Linked DNA regions of Homo sapiens: regions 1, 3 and 4 are each reported to be linked to region 2. The links are microRNA targets in miRTarBase. Many come from high-throughput screens and were not tested one by one. Region 2 holds a microRNA gene; each other region holds the end of a gene's coding sequence. Distances are between the middles of the regions.
What was found. Region 2 holds the annotated microRNA hsa-miR-4769-3p (UCUGCCAUCCUCCCUCCCCUAC, at 824-845, opposite strand). A microRNA usually pairs through its seed, bases 2 to 8, with sites in the 3' UTR of a target mRNA and lowers its output. Matches are read on the target gene's strand: a 7mer-m8 pairs with bases 2 to 8, a 7mer-A1 pairs with bases 2 to 7 and ends in A, and an 8mer does both.

Region 1: the mRNA of EIF2AK2 is a reported target of hsa-miR-4769-3p. The part of its 3' UTR that is shown has no 7-base or 8-base seed match.
Region 3: miRTarBase lists TBL3 as a target of hsa-miR-4769-3p. Seed matches in the 3' UTR shown: 7mer-A1 at 2,596-2,602 and 7mer-m8 at 661-667.
Region 4: the mRNA of USP9X is a reported target of hsa-miR-4769-3p. Seed matches in the 3' UTR shown: 7mer-m8 at 660-666.

What each region holds. Positions count from the first base shown.
Region 1 is chr2:37,103,853-37,108,336 of GRCh38, reverse strand. It overlaps EIF2AK2 (eukaryotic translation initiation factor 2 alpha kinase 2), which reads left to right. Exons shown (of 17, transcript NM_001135651.3): 16 at 810-863; 17 at 942-4,484. The coding sequence ends at 1,064. Among named protein-coding and RNA genes, the nearest start is that of GPATCH11, 22 kb to the right of the region's middle.
Region 2 is chrX:47,584,029-47,588,320 of GRCh38, reverse strand. It overlaps MIR4769 (microRNA 4769), which reads right to left and starts at 892; the gene lies at 816-892. All of the region lies in intron 5 of SYN1 (synapsin I), which reads left to right. TIMP1 (TIMP metallopeptidase inhibitor 1) reads right to left here. Exons shown (of 6, transcript NM_003254.3): 3 at 3,306-3,385; 4 at 2,990-3,116; 5 at 2,654-2,778; 6 at 1,532-1,800. The coding sequence ends at 1,630. RefSeq lists a silencer at 737-1,031.
Region 3 is chr16:1,977,196-1,981,473 of GRCh38, reverse strand. TBL3 (transducin beta like 3) reads right to left here. Exons shown (of 22, transcript NM_006453.3): 15 at 4,190-4,278; 16 at 4,048-4,118; 17 at 3,804-3,960; 18 at 3,674-3,732; 19 at 3,413-3,516; 20 at 3,254-3,325; 21 at 3,003-3,161; 22 at 1-2,922. The coding sequence ends at 2,789. It overlaps NOXO1 (NADPH oxidase organizer 1), which reads left to right and starts at 5. Exons shown (of 8, transcript NM_172167.3): 1 at 5-360; 2 at 455-535; 3 at 743-818; 4 at 930-1,107; 5 at 1,293-1,477; 6 at 1,571-1,684; 7 at 1,932-2,049; 8 at 2,125-2,557. The coding sequence starts at 295. The coding sequence ends at 2,422. RefSeq lists enhancers at 29-88, 565-1,144, 1,145-1,722, 1,723-2,302, 2,303-2,882 and 1 more and silencers at 952-1,246, 2,039-2,158.
Region 4 is chrX:41,232,243-41,235,242 of GRCh38, forward strand. It overlaps USP9X (ubiquitin specific peptidase 9 X-linked), which reads left to right. Exons shown (of 45, transcript NM_001039591.3): 45 at 145-3,000. The coding sequence ends at 282. Among named protein-coding and RNA genes, the nearest start is that of LINC02601, 42 kb to the right of the region's middle.

The sequences.
Region 1 (4,484 bases), not on the chromosome of region 2:
TGTATTTGGGGACAGCAGGCAGTGTAAGTTGTATTGGAGTATATAAGTTACAAGGAAGTAGTGGTTGGTGAGGCTAGAAAGATAGGTTGGGCTAACTTGAGGAAAAAATGTGGACCTTCTTGCTTAGACAGTGGGGAGTCACTAAAGGCAGTAGGCAAGTGGATATCCTACTCTTTTTTTTTTTTTTTTTGAGATAGAGTTTCACTTTTATTGCCCAGGCTGGAGTGCAATGGCGCGATCTTGGCTCACTGTAACTTCTGCCTCCCAGGTTCAAGCAATTCTCCTGCCTCAGCCTCCCAAGTAACTGGGACTACAGGCGTGCACCACCATGCCTGGTTAATTTTTTTGTATTTAGTAGAGATGGGGTTTCACCATGTTGGTCAGGCTGGTCTCGAACTCCTGACCTCTGGCAATCCACCCGCCTCGGCCTCCCAGAGTGTTGGGATTACAGGTGTGAGCCACTGCACCCAGCTGGATATCCTACTCTTAAGCTCAGGAAAGGGAACTTTCCTGGAGTCAATAACCTTATCCTCTGTAAAACAGTTAGAAGTACCTATCACTTAGGGTTCCAAAATGCATGAAGGGAGATTGTAAAGATGATGCACTTAACACTTCATGTCGTAATGCAAGGATGGTTATTAGATTGGGGGTAGTGTAGGAGAGAGGGAATCCTGCTTGCTTCTTGGCTAAAGAGACTTTCCCAAAAAATCTGGAAATATCCTACATTTCAGGTATTCCTCAGCCTTTAGTTCTGTCTTTCCTCCCAAGTAAATAATTTCCTAATATACACCTATCATTTTTTTTTCCAGTTTTTCACAGACCTACGGGATGGCATCATCTCAGATATATTTGATAAAAAAGAAGTAAGCACTTGAAAATCATCAGAATTTTATTTATTTCAATGTTTTATTTCTTACTATTGACTCTCACTGTCATTGCAGAAAACTCTTCTACAGAAATTACTCTCAAAGAAACCTGAGGATCGACCTAACACATCTGAAATACTAAGGACCTTGACTGTGTGGAAGAAAAGCCCAGAGAAAAATGAACGACACACATGTTAGAGCCCTTCTGAAAAAGTATCCTGCTTCTGATATGCAGTTTTCCTTAAATTATCTAAAATCTGCTAGGGAATATCAATAGATATTTACCTTTTATTTTAATGTTTCCTTTAATTTTTTACTATTTTTACTAATCTTTCTGCAGAAACAGAAAGGTTTTCTTCTTTTTGCTTCAAAAACATTCTTACATTTTACTTTTTCCTGGCTCATCTCTTTATTCTTTTTTTTTTTTTAAAGACAGAGTCTCGCTCTGTTGCCCAGGCTGGAGTGCAATGACACAGTCTTGGCTCACTGCAACTTCTGCCTCTTGGGTTCAAGTGATTCTCCTGCCTCAGCCTCCTGAGTAGCTGGATTACAGGCATGTGCCACCCACCCAACTAATTTTTGTGTTTTTAATAAAGACAGGGTTTCACCATGTTGGCCAGGCTGGTCTCAAACTCCTGACCTCAAGTAATCCACCTGCCTCGGCCTCCCAAAGTGCTGGGATTACAGGGATGAGCCACCGCGCCCAGCCTCATCTCTTTGTTCTAAAGATGGAAAAACCACCCCCAAATTTTCTTTTTATACTATTAATGAATCAATCAATTCATATCTATTTATTAAATTTCTACCGCTTTTAGGCCAAAAAAATGTAAGATCGTTCTCTGCCTCACATAGCTTACAAGCCAGCTGGAGAAATATGGTACTCATTAAAAAAAAAAAAAAAAGTGATGTACAACCACTTCGGAAAACAATTTGGCATTATCTAGTAAAGTTGAATCCATGTATACCCACATAGCTATCAATTCTATTCCTACATACGTGCTTACAAGAATGTCCATAAAACCCTGTTTATAATAGCCAAAAGAACAGGGAACAACCATAATGCACATCAAAAGAAGAATGGATTAAAAAAATTATATTCACACACAGGAGTACTATATAGTATTGAAAACAATTGAAGTACAGCTAAATGTAATAACGTAACACAATACAACTCTCAGAAACATAATGTTAAGCGAACAAAGCAGGTTTTCAGAAAATATATGCAGAATAATTCCATTTATATAAAGTTCCAGAGCATGCAAAACTAAATCATTTTGTATAAAAAACCCAACAAATGTGATGAGACAATAATGGGAAGGAAGGGAATGAGAAATATTAAATTCTGGATGGTGGTTATCTTTGAGGGAGGGGAATGATGTGATTGGGGAAATGGACTTTCAAAGGTAATGGTAACTTCCTTAAGCTGGATGGTAGGTCCACTAGTGTTTGCTGCATAGTTATACCTTTTATCTTAAATACATTTTGTATCTATTGTAACAACCACTTTAAAGACAACCGTGCTGTAAGGCAGTAGCTAAAAACAGAAAATAGTCCATCGGGAAGGGTAAGATGGCTTTCTGCTGAGCACAGGGCTAGAAGTGACAGCCCAGTGGGCCTTCCAACTATATGCCAGGGTGTTAGATGAGTAGAGAGGAGACCACCCAGGAAGTCTGGACAAGGGGTCTGGCATGAGCTCTGGAGAAGATATATTTGAGGAACATGGGGTATGCTAGTTTGTTGTCCTGAATTGCTGTAGAGAAGATAATTTAAATTGCATCTTAGAAGACGACCCTGAGGGTGAATTTCAACTTAGGGCAATTGTTTTAGTTTGTTTCTTATTGGTTTAAATGGATACTTGAAGCTGGATAATTTATAAGGAAAAGAGATTTATATGACTTACAGTTCTGCAGGCTGTACAAGAAACATGGCACCAGCATCTGCTTCTTCCCCGGCTGCTTCCACTCATGGTGGAAGGTGAAGGGGAGCCGGATGTGCAGAGATCATATGGCAAGAGAGGAAGCAAGAGAGCGAGGGAGAAGGTGCCAGGCTCTTTTTAAATAACCGGCTCTTGAGGGAACTAATAGATTGAGAACTCCTTGCTTCTCCTCCCCAGCACACCCCACCCCCAGGGACGGCATTAATGTATTCATGAGGGGTCTTCCCCCATGACCCAAACACCTCCCATCAGGCCCCACCTCCAACACTGGGATCAAATTTCAACATGAGATTTTGGGGGACAAACATGCAAACTATAGCAGCAACCAGCTACCATTCTAAAACTGCCATATGATTTTAGGATTTTTAAAAAGGGCCAAATTTAGGTTAAGCAAAAAGTGAAAATACAGTAAGAGAAAATAGTTTTATAAAGGCTTTAAAAAGTGTTCATAAAGAGCAGTTCATAGATTTTTCACGTAACGTTCATCAATAGATGCTAAAACTATTGGATGAAAAGCTATTGTGGAATAGGATCTTCTACAAGGATTTAAATATAATCCTACAGAAGAGGTATCAATTATACAGGGGAAAATGTACCTTTACAATGGTCACCACAATAACCAAGTGATTCAATTTAGCATCACCCAAGGTGGAACACCCTAACATTATGCCCCTCCTGATGTGACTTAAGAATTTTACCTATTTAGTTTTCTTGCACAAAGTGTTAAACTGGAATTTAATCATGAGGAAATTATTAGACAAATCCTGAATGTAGTCATTCTATAAGATGATTGACTTGGGCTTCTCAAAAAGTCAGTGTCATGAAAAAAAAAAAAAGGGGAGAGACTTGTAAGATACAATGACCAAATGCAATGTTTGAATCTTTATTGTATTCTGGATATTTAAAAAGACAAAAGCTGGACGCAGTAGCTAATGCCTGTTATCCCAGCATTTTTGGGAGGTCAAAAGGGGAGGATGGCTTGAGCATAGGATTTTGAGACTAGCCTGGGCAACACAGTGAGTTCTCATCTCTACAAAAAATCAGAAAATTAGCTGGGCATGGTAGTGTGCATCTGTGGTCCCAGCTACTTGGGGGGGTGAGGTGGGAGGATCACTTGAGCCTAGGAGGTCAAGGCCGCAGTGAGCCATGATCATGTTACTGCATTCCAGCCTGGGTGACAGAGTGAGATCATATCTAAATAATAATAATAATAAAAGAAAGCAACAACCCAGCAAACAGCTATAAAGATATCTTCGGGACAATTGAGAACATTTGAATATAGACTGCATATTAGATAACAATGCCAAATAACTGTTTTCTCAGGTGTGATAATAGTATATGTAGAAAATGTCTTTTTGTTTTGTTTTATTTTGTTTTTGTTTGTTTGTTTGTTTTGAGACAGAGTCTCACTGTGTCGCCCAGGCTGGAGTGCAGTGGCACGATCTCGGCTCACTGCAACCTCTGCCTCCCAGGTTCAAGTGATTCTCCTGCCTCTGCTTCCTGAGTAGCTGGGATTACAGGTATCTGCCACCACTCCAGGTTAATTTTTTCTATTTTTAGTAGAGACGGAATTTCACCATGTTGACCCAGCTGGTTTTGAACTCCTGACCTCAGGTGATTCACTTGCCTTGGCCTCCCAAAGTGTTGAGATTACAGGCATGAGTCACTGCACCCAGCCAAAA
Region 2 (4,292 bases):
AGGCAGCTGAGGGAACATTGACAAGGTCACCAGGGATGAACCAGGGCTCGGGCCCTTACCTTACAGTTGTGCCCATCAGCAAAGGCTGCGGTTGGCCCCTTCGGTGGACAAGGTTCAGACCCTCCGAGGGCGTAACCAAGGTGTAGATGTTGATGTAGAAATTGTTGCTGCATGCGCATTCCCTGCTTAAGTGGCTGAGTACTGTGTGTTCAAAATCTGCCCATTCCCATCCGGGACATAATTTGGGCCGTGGGGTAACCTCCCAGGAGTGTAAAAGGCTCTGGGACAGGACCACAGAAGATCCAGGGGGCTGTGCTTGGTGACCTAGAATGCCCTGGAGGAGACCTGGGTTCTTACTGGTAAGAGCAGTGGGTACTCTGATGAGAGGGAATTTGGGGGTCCTTTTCTTTACCAAAGGAGATATATTGGGGCCCTTTTCAAGCACGTTCAGGTCAGGAGGACACAGGTGCTCCATTGAATGTTTGCACCAGTCTGAAATTCTAGTTCCCAAGGGCCTCACTTGAGTCAAGACCTTTGGAGTATGAGGGGCAGGAGCCAGGGACTGGACCCCGCTGTGGAAGCAGGAAGGCCTCAGAGGGGAGTATTTGGAGGTTCTCTCACTCAGTTTTTCTAGAGAAAGGATGATTCATAAAGGTGAGGGTCGAGTCTAGAGACCCTAGTTTGGGTGAGGGGACAGTTGGGTTGAGGGAGGTGTGTGGAGGGTATGGGCCAGCATATCTGGCTGGTCTTAATTTTGAACCCTACCTGCATTTCATTGCTGTCAGTATTTCCTTCCAAGTTGGTCAGAGGAGTGAGGGGAGAAGTAGGGGAGGGAGGATGGCAGAGCTTGGGGATTTTTAGCTCATACCTTCTCTCCATCCCACCTCTCCTCTGCCCCAAACAGTCCCTTCCAAGGAATGTCCTGCAGCCATGGCTGGGGAGCCAGGGCCACCCCTTCTTCCCAAGTCCCCAGCTGGGTTACTGTGGGACTCTGGGTGCCCTGGGTCCCCTTTCACTCAAGTCAGACTCATGGTACAAAACCTGAGGATGAGGACAGTAACACCCACGTGTTTGGATGGGGCATCCTCACTGGACAACATCAGGACTGTGCTTGAGGCAATGATAGTCATTTGCCAATTGGTAGGGCATTTGTCAATGACTCTGTCAGCTGGCAAGATGTGTGAATGGGGAATTTCCAGTAAGGCAGTGATTTGTCAGCTGTGGGATAATTTATAACTAGAAAGCCCTGGGCAAATAGCAATTAGGAATCAGTATAGGAAAATGTTTTAAAGTATTGGCTGGAGAAATTATTCAGAGGTTACGGTTGATAATGCAGGTTCAGTGACCATTGCTGCTGTTGCAGATCATCAGTGCTAATGCCAATGTTGAGAATTACTACCAGTACATCAGAATTTAAGTAAAATATAAAAACCCAACATTTGGCATCCCTCATCCCCACTGGTCCCAGGGTGCTCACACCAGGTCATCAGCAACATGGGTTTGTTCCCAGGCACTACACAGAAACAGTGTCTGCTGGGTGGTAACTCTTTATTTCATTGTCCGGAAGAAAGATGGGAGTGGGAACAGGGTGGACACTGTGCAGGCTTCAGCTTCCACTCCGGGCAGGATTCAGGCTATCTGGGACCGCAGGGACTGCCAGGTGCACAGCCCTGGCTCCCGAGGCAGGCAGGCAAGGTGACGGGACTGGAAGCCCTTTTCAGAGCCTTGGAGGAGCTGGTCCGTCCACAAGCAATGAGTGCCACTCTGCAGTTTGCAGGGGATGGATAAACAGGGAAACACCTGGAAGGGAGGAGGGAAACATCTCTGAGGGCTTCTCCCTGCCTCCCCCGTGGAGCAGAACTTCCTCTCCTCAGCTTTCAACACTGAGCCGCTGGGGAGACTTGCTCTCACCCCACCTAAGTACATACCCCAGGACAGCCCCTCCCATTGAGGGAAATGTCACTGGGTCCTGAAAGGTAACAGTAAGCCAGTAAATCAGTGTCCTGGAATGGTGGCTGGGGAATAGGCCCTGGGGGTCAGTCAGGCAGGTCGCCTGTGGAATTGTCCCAAAGGACAGGGAAAAACTGGCAGTAGTAAGGGGCCCCACCCGGTTGGCGGCTAAGGAGTTTAAGCACAGGAATAGCCAGTGGGGCTTCAAGATAGTCACTGGGCTCAGAGGCCATCAGGAGCCATCAGGGAACAGGCTTGGACTAGCCAGGAGGTCAGTGTAACACCCTCTGGTGTCTGGAATAGTCAGAGCTGCAGAGCAACAAGCAGATGTGCTGAGGAAGGGTCAGTGGGATTAGGGAACAGCACTTTGGGTTCTTGGAGAACATTCTGGGGAACCAAGAAACAATCCCGGGGGCTCAGGAACGGGGAGTGGGATTACAGAATAGTCACAAGGGAGAATTAGAGGGACCAGGGAGGGACAGGTGATCACACGGTATTGGACACAGGGAAAGGGAGCAGCCAGAATTTGTAAGGGAGCAGTCTCGGGCTTGGGGAAATAGCAAGAGAGATCAGGGACAGCCCTTAGGGTTGGGGAGCAGCCACAGGGACACAGAATAGCCAGAGGGAGCAAGAAACAAGCCCACGATTTAGGGAATGGCCCCGGGAAGGATCTCCCGTTGGAGGTCAGGGTCCAGGCACTCACTGTGCATTCCTCACAGCCAACAGTGTAGGTCTTGGTGAAGCCCCGGCGCTGAGCTAAGCTCAGGCTGTTCCAGGGAGCCACAAAACTGCAGGTAGTGATGTGCAAGAGTCCATCCTGCAGTTTTCCTAAGGAGAAAGGCGGGGCGGGGACCGACAAGCAGCTTGTGATTGGCTGAGCTGCCAAGCTGCCAAAGGCCCGGCCTTCTGATAGACTGAAATTGGGGTGGTCCCCATTTCCAGTGGGACCATTCCCATCAGAGCCTCGCCCCCTCGTGGTTGCTAGGCCGCGCCCCAGGGACTGGTTGGTGTGGCACAGGGCGCGGGGACGGTGCCTCACCAGCAATGAGAAACTCCTCGCTGCGGTTGTGGGACCTGTGGAAGTATCCGCAGACACTCTCCATGGCGGGGGTGTAGACGAACCGGATGTCAGCGGCATCCCCTAAGGCTTGGAACCCTTTATACATCTGTTGATGGATGAGGGGAAGTGTCTCTTTTACTGACATAATCCTCCCACTCCAGGTTCTTCCCTGAAGTCATATAGCATCCCAAGATCACAGCCAACTTTCTCGCACCAACCAGTGGCCAGAAGTTTCTGTTTTGACCAGGAGGAAGATGTTAGAAAATGCTGGGAAAGAGGCGGGGGCAGGGGATACCTTGGTCATCTTGATCTCATAACGCTGGTATAAGGTGGTCTGGTTGACTTCTGGTGTCCCCACGAACTTGGCCCTGATGACTGCAGGAGAGGAGGGAAATATGAGTCAAATGGACTGCATGAGCCAATAAAAATAAGATCATCATCATCATCATCATCATACCAGCAAAGCGCATACATAAATAGGGGTTATTGGATGCCAGACAGCACACAAAGTGATTTACACATTTGTTCATTGATTCATCTGTATGTTGAGTGTCTCTCTTTGCCGGGCACTGCTTAAGCCATTTTCATACATTGATTTGTTCATTTACTCCTCAAATATTTGGGAGTGCCCACTGTGTGCCAGACATTGTTCTGGGTGTTAGGGACACAACAGTGAACAAAACACAGAAATCCCTTTCCTTGTGGAGTTCACATTCTAGCCAGGAGGAGACAGGCTAAGAACAAACAAAATAAGGATATGGAATGTTAGACATTAAGTATAATGGGGAATTACAGACCTGGGTAAGGGGCTGACAAAGATTCTTTGCTTGACCAAACTTTACTCAGGCTCCTGAACCTCCTCCTAGGCCCATCTGTGCACTTCCTTGTAAAATCCAGTTTTAGCCGAGAGCCTTGCTAAGTCAGTTTAGCAAGAACCCCTATATTCTATATCTGATCATCCTCAATCTCTGATCATCCTCAATACCTGATCATCCTCAATCTCTGATCATCCTCAATACCTGATCATCCTCAATCTCTGATCATCCTCAATACCTGATCATCCTCAATCTCTGATCATCCTCAATCTCTGATCATCCTCAATACCTGATCATCCTTGCTATCTGACTGGGTTCTTCATCTTCCACCATCCCCCAGGTGATGTCTGATTCCCCTTGGCCTGCCTTCAGCAAGAATCCTGTTACGTCGGTTTAGCCAGAATCCCCCTTACCCCTGATGTTTCTTCTTAGTAATTTCCACCCACAGACCCTCACACTGCTCCTTA
Region 3 (4,278 bases), not on the chromosome of region 2:
CTTCAGTCTTGCACGCCTCCAGGGCTGGAAAGCTCATTCTTCTTCTTCCTCCCAGCAGCTCTGCCTGGAAGTCCCCCAATCCCTGTGCTCCTGCCCCCAGATCGTGGGCTTGGGGGACAGCAAGAAAGCTGCAAAGGACTCAGCTGGGGCGGCTCCACAAGGACCCCACAGGCTTGAGGTGTTGCCAGGATTCTATCCCAGGGGGTTTTCTGGGTCCCCCAGAGCCCTCTCAAGCACGGGGAGGCAGAAGGGTCCTCGCCCATTTCAGGAATCTGCAGCCTGGAAGCCACAGCCATGGCAGGCCCCCGATACCCAGTTTCAGTGCAAGGGGCAGCCCTGGTGCAGATCAAGAGGCTCCAAGTAAGACCTGGCTGGGTCCTTAGTGGCCCCAAGGGATAGGAAGGGGGTGCCTGGACCAGCACCTCCACGGCACTCCCAACTTTTTGTCCCCCAGACGTTTGCCTTCTCTGTGCGCTGGTCAGACGGCAGCGACACCTTCGTGCGCAGGAGTTGGGACGAATTCAGGCAGCTCAAGGTGAGTGACCCTGGGCCACCCTGATGCCGCGGTGGCGGCTTCCCCACGCGGCTGCCTCCCACTGGACTGCCTCCCATCAGTGACTCCCACTGGAGGCCCTTCGTCCCTGCTGAAGCTCCCAGCCCCTGCCATCCGGGTGAGGGACCCCGCCCTCTCAAGGGTGCACAGTGGGCTCTGGAAGACCAATGCCCTGGTTCCCGCCCTCAGAAGACCCTCAAGGAGACCTTCCCGGTGGAGGCGGGCCTGCTGCGGAGATCTGACCGCGTTCTCCCAAAGCTTCTCGGTCAGGCCAGCCTGGGTACGGGAGCGGGGAAGGCGGTGGCTTGCCTGGGGGCGCCAGGGACCAGTGAAGCCCAAAGCGGCGTATCACAGTACGTTTTTGTGGTGCCTTAAGATGCACCACTGTTGGGACGCGTGGGGCGCACGAGCCGCGGCCTGGCGCGCCTGCAGCTGTTGGAAACCTATTCTCGGAGGCTGCTGGCGACTGCAGAGCGCGTGGCACGGAGCCCGACGATCACTGGCTTCTTCGCACCGCAACCCCTGGACCTGGAGCCCGCGCTGCCACCCGGCAGGTGCCTGACTCGCCCCAAACTCCCAGCATGCAGCGGCGTTTGGAGCTGGGAGAGGTCCAGGGTGGGGGGGAACAGCCAGCGAATAGGGGCAGAGAGTGGGAGGCTGGCGGTCTTGCCGGGGTGGCGCCCCCAGTTTCACCCTCCCCATCCGCCTACCTCTCACTCGTACGGGCTGCCCTTCCCAGCCGGGTGATCCTGCCCACCCCAGAGGAGCAGCCTCTTTCTCGCGCTGCGGGCCGCCTCTCCATCCACAGTCTGGAGGCTCAGAGCCTGCGCTGCCTGCAGCCCTTCTGTACCCAGGACACGCGGGATAGGCCTTTTCAGGCGCAGGCCCAGGAGAGCCTGGACGTGCTGCTGCGGCACCCCTCAGGTAGGGCCCCCCAAGAACCCAGGGATTTGCTCCTCTGCTCCTGGACCCGAGGGAGCCTCGAGATTTGAGTCCCTGCCCGCTTCTTGCGCACAGGCTGGTGGCTGGTGGAGAACGAAGACCGGCAGACCGCCTGGTTTCCAGCGCCCTACCTGGAGGAGGCGGCCCCGGGCCAAGGCCGGGAGGGAGGCCCGTCCCTAGGGAGCAGCGGTATGCGCCTAACCCCACCCCTCACGCCACCACTGCGGCTTGACCGTGTGGCAAGACTGGGCCAGAAGCACCGCGGGCAGGGCGGGCCAGGAGCCCGTGCTTGGTCTCCGCACCTAGAGGAAGCCCCGAACCGGTCTTAGAGCGGCCCCGCCGTCAGCAGACTCAAGCAAGGAGAATGTGGAGAAGGGTGCGGGCGGGCCTCGTCCTCTGTGGCCCCGCGGTGACTCCAAACACCCACTCCCACCAGGTCCCCAGTTCTGTGCTTCCCGCGCCTACGAGAGCAGCCGCGCAGATGAGCTGTCCGTGCCCGCGGGGGCGCGCGTGCGCGTGTTGGAAACGTCAGACCGCGGCTGGTGGCTATGCAGGTACGCGGGAGCGGGCGTGGGCAGGGCAGGCTAGCCGAGGCGGGCGGGGCCCTAACCACACCCCGCCCCTCGCAGGTACGGCGACCGGGCGGGCCTACTCCCCGCGGTGCTGCTGCGGCCGGAAGGGCTGGGCGCTCTCCTGAGCGGGACGGGGTTCCGTGGAGGAGACGACCCGGCGGGTGAGGCCCGGGGCTTCCCTGAACCCTCCCAGGCCACCGCCCCTCCCCCCACCGTGCCCACCCGACCTTCGCCGGGCGCCATCCAGAGCCGCTGCTGCACCGTCACACGCAGGGCCCTGGAGCGGCGCCCACGGCGCCAGGGCCGCCCTCGAGGGTGCGTGGACTCTGTGCCGCACCCCACGACGGAGCAGTGAGCGCGAGGATCCCGATGAGGGGATGGACCGCGCCATCCCAGGGCTGGGGAGGAGCGGGGAGGGCGGATCTCCCTGGCCAGCAGGGATGGGAGGGGGCCATTTGCTGTTCCTCTGAGTAAAGCTTGTTCTGCATGACCCCCACCGTCTAAGCGTGCGGAGCCGCGGGCTGGATCTCTGCCAGGCCAGGGTGCGGGATGGGCGTGGCAGGGCCGAGACCATCAGCTCCAGTGCCCTTCTGGCTGGCTAGGTAGGGTGTTGGCCAGGGTGGGGGGCTGGACTGCAGTCCAGAGAGACAGAGCCGGCCAGGAGAGCGGCCTTTATGGGTTTTCCAGGGGTTCAGGATGGACTGGAGAGAGGCCGGACCGGCTAGGGCAGTGCGCCTTTATGGGTTTCCCAGGGGGTGGGGGCGGCGGCCGGCACAGGGAGCTTCATGTTGTGCCACAGGAAGTCCAAGAAAGCGGCGGCCTGGAGGGTCCTGCTGAGCCGCTGAAAGTGCCGCTCTGGGGTTGGACAGAGGGAGGTCAGGGGGGTGGTCCACACGCCCACCAGGATCCCCCAACCCCAGGCTGTGCCCACATACCAGTGTAGGGCAGCAGGGCCTCAAGCGCTGCCCGCACGCCTTCGTAGGCCAGCAGCTCCTCGGGGGCCTCTCGCCTCAAGAGCACACCCAGCACGGCCTGGGCCTCGTGGCAGTGCCGCGAGTTGGTGTTCCACGTGACGCAGAAGCGCAGCAGGGCCTCTGTGGGCAACAGGACCCTCATCGTCTTGCCCAGCCAATCTGCCATGACTGGCCCTTGCCCACCGGGCCACCCACCCTGACTGGCCGCCAACCTTTCTGGTCGCGCCGCAGTCGGAGCATGGTGGCTTCCAGCTTCTCGCAGGCCTCAGGGTCCCTCCGGATGGCTGTGGGAGAAGGGAAGGCTGAGCTGGGGAAAGCAGAGCCCAGTGGTCCGAAGACCCAGCCCCTCGCCCCCCGGGGTGGGCACTGACCCTGGATGACAGTCAGCACGGTGTGGGGCCGATCCAGGGAGATGGCCAGGCCCAGCGCCCGCAGGTACCGCTTCTCATGCAGCAGGTTGTCCAGCTCTTGCTGCCTGTGGGGAGGGGAGGAGAGGCCACTGAGGGCCGCTGGCTGGGGCTGCAGGCAGAGCCATCGGAGTCAGCAGGCAGGGAGCCTGGCACTCAGCCTCGTTTTCCCTACAGCACAGAGCAGGGCTGATGCGGGGAGGGGCGCCACTGCCCTGGCCTTACCTGACCACCTGCTCCTCTTGCCTGGCCTGCTCCTCTGCCTGCTCCGCCTCGGTCACATCCTGGGGTTAGACTAGGGTCAGATGGGGCCTCCACTCCACCCCGACTCTTCCCTGCCCTTGGGGCCCACAACCTTCCAGAGGATGACTCGGGAGTCACTGGCCCCAGTGAGGGCGTGGTCGTCCAGCCGGCTGCAGTGCAGCCCCCAGACCTTGTCCTCGTGGGCATCCAGCGTCCGCACACACTCGTTGTTCTTGATGGTCCAGAGCTTCACGAGGCCATCCGAACCGCTGGGTTTGGGGTGGGGAGAGGCTCAGCGTCAGGCAGGTCCCCCCGCCACCCCCCACTCCATCGCTGCCCCACCCCAGCCCACTCACCTGGACAGCAGCTGCGTGCCACGGCTCACAAAGGCCACCTTCAGCACAGAAGCATCGTGCCCCTCAAATGTCTGCAAGGTGGGGGGTAGGGCATGAGATGTCACCAGGGCGGGAAGTGGGGAGGGTCTGGAGCGCCACTTACCTTGAGACAGCTGAAGTCCTGGAGTGCCCAGAGCTTGATGGTGCCATCAGCTGAGGCCGTGGCCAGCACCTGGTCCATGGGAGAGAACT
Region 4 (3,000 bases), 6.4 Mb from region 2:
GTTTTGCACTATAGTAGTCCAAGGGTATTTACAGAGTAAGTCCCAAGAATAAGAGTATACATTTCCAGAGACTTCAGACCATGATTTTGAAGTTGTTTTACTATGTGAAAAGTTTTAACATACAGATCTTTTCTCCTTTCCCAGAATAACCATGTGCATGGACAGCCATATACAGGCCCAGCAGCACATCACATGAACAACCCTCAGAGAACTGGCCAACGAGCACAAGAAAATTATGAAGGCAGTGAAGAAGTATCCCCACCTCAAACCAAGGATCAATGAAATGCACATAATTAACTGGTTCCATCAAGACTGTGCACCCAGGCCTTACAGTCCAACCTTTTTCTGTGTCTGGCTAATATTTAAAACTAGAAAAACTATTCCTAATCAACATGGAGTGGAGAGTTTATTCACTGTCTTATCTGCAGAAATTTGCTGTCAATATATAACCCGCCTGCAGTGGAAAGTGTATAGTGTTTTGTAATAAATGGCCTGATGCTAATGTGTAAATGGCAAAGGTGTATATAGTATATTAATGTTGACTGTTAATTCTTAAGCAAGAAACTTTTTTCTTGATGAGACTCACAGATCTACACAAACTACAAAAGTTAATTTTCTTGTTACACCCACTGCACTCTGCAACCAGTGTTGCCTGCCTCATGGCAGTTGGATCAGCTCCTTTACAAAAAAGAAAAAAAAAAAACCAACAGCAACAAAACAGAGCCCATCCATGTCAGCCACACCAATAGTTTCATGTTAATTCTTTGCCACTGGAGTCAATTTTGCTATGAGCAATGTAAGGCTGGTAACCTTTAAATTATTTGGTTGATGTGGAAAATTGGTGATGTAACACTGTTTCTAGATTTTTTTCATTGCCTTTTTATTCTGATATTAGGTTAATCACTTTGAAGCTATAGTTATGCTGTAACATTTAGCATGGCTTCACACCAAGTTAGTGTAGCCAATGAGGAAAAAGTTACCATAATGACAGCAGTTGTCCGAGAAGTGACAGCTGTATTACTCAGAGCTTTTACTTCTTACACCTAGAATATTAAAATATAAAACAAGGGGAGAAATGTGACAGTCTATTTTCAGTTGCACATATGTTCCTTATATATAATGTTTGACAGTTCAATCTCTGGGTGGAATAAAGAACACTTACGTATCAGTAATGGGAATTTTTAAAGATTTAAAACAAATATGCAAAAATTTGCTATGCCAAGATGCTGGAGCATAATATAAGACTGTATTTGGTGTGCTTGTTTTGTTTCTTTGGTAGAGTTTATTAGGTGAATCTTCTAAAACTTTCCTTCTGTTGGATCCCAGTGACGTGGAAGTCATCAGAACCCCACGGTACTTGGAGTACCTCTCTGCACCAAGATAGCTGGCTGATTTTCTGCTCAGTCACAATTTTACTTGAAAGCAAGAATTGTCCTAGCTCCTTTTCCATTATTCCAAAACGTTTAACGTTCAAAGCAGGGTCTCATTAAAAAAGAAACTACTGGTTGATATAATTGAGATATTACAATTTCAGAATAAACATTTGATTAAAAATAAGGAAATCCTCAGTTCATACTGTATTTAAAAGAGAATTGGTAACTTGAATGTGTGTAATTTTTTGGAACCTGTCTAAAAACCAAATACCCCTGCAAACAGATACAGCCCACCCTATTCTATTTAAATATTTTGCTGTTTTATTTTATAGAAATTATTTTGCTGAATTCACAAATAGAATTTGATTTAAGAAGAACTTTTTGTCCTGTGGTGTGTTTTTGGTTTTTTTTTTGGTTACTTTTTTTGTCCTTTTTTTTTTTTTTTAAAAGAGGACTGCATATTAAAATTCATTCTGTGCATAGCATGCCTAGGCATGACACTGATTCAGGATTTCAGTCACATCAAGTTTTTGTGCACAGAAAGATTTGACCTTTGGCCCTCTACTGAAGATTTTGAGAAATCAGGATGTTGACACTGTAAAAGTTTCCTAACATAATCTTGTACTTTTTGTATGTTTTTTATATACATGTATATTTAATGAGCACAAGCTTGGTTGTATTTTTTACAATTCAGTTAATAGGGAAATGTTTTGTCAAAAGGCTACACTTGGAACTGAACAAAGCAGAAACAAAATTGAGCATTGCATTATTTTGTGATTAAAAGGGGCAGGTATTTAAGATAAAGCTTTGGGTATCTTATTTGTAGTACTGTATAGTCAACCTGTGCTTCTAGGTGTTCCTGTAGGACATTTTGACACCGATACTTTGAGTGAAAGTCACACACGGTGTTTGCAATTCCAACTGATTTTTGTTTTGTTTTTATTTTTTTGTTGTTTTCTTCTTTGAGATGGAGTCTTGCTCTGTCACCCAGGCTGGAGTGCAGTGGCACAATCTTGGCTCACTGCAACGTCGCCTCCTGGGTTCAAGCGATTCTTCCGCCTCAGCCTCCCGAGTAGCTGGGATTAGAGGTGCCCACCACCACGCCCAGCTAATTTTTGTATTTTTGTAGAGACAGGGTTTCACCACGTTGGCCAGGCTGGTCTTGAACTCCTGACCTCAGGTGATCTGGCCGCCTCGGCCTCCCAAAGTGCTGGGATTGCAGGTGTGAGCCACCGCGCCTGGCCCCAGTTGATAGTTTTTTTAATTTAAAAGTTCCTCAATTCCAAGCTCTTTAAACGAGTGAAATAGGTTAACTTTATTTGGATGAGTTAGGTGTACCATCTCACCATCTGAGAGGAGATTTATATATTTCCTGCTGCTCCTTAACAAAATATGTAATGTACTTAAAAACTTTAACGACTTCCTAGTTGAGAGAAAACTTGACATATAAAAGGCTGTGAATTTTTCTGCTTGGAGGAAGAGCCCAACCTTGGTTGCTTTGAAGTTACAAGCCCCCTTGTGCCAGGTGAGGGGCTTGTGAGTCATTTTTGTCTCCATTTGAGGAAGAGTGGTATTCGTTGTGACTAGGAGCAAGGGAAAGTGGAGTTATTTTTGTTTGTGCAAATTA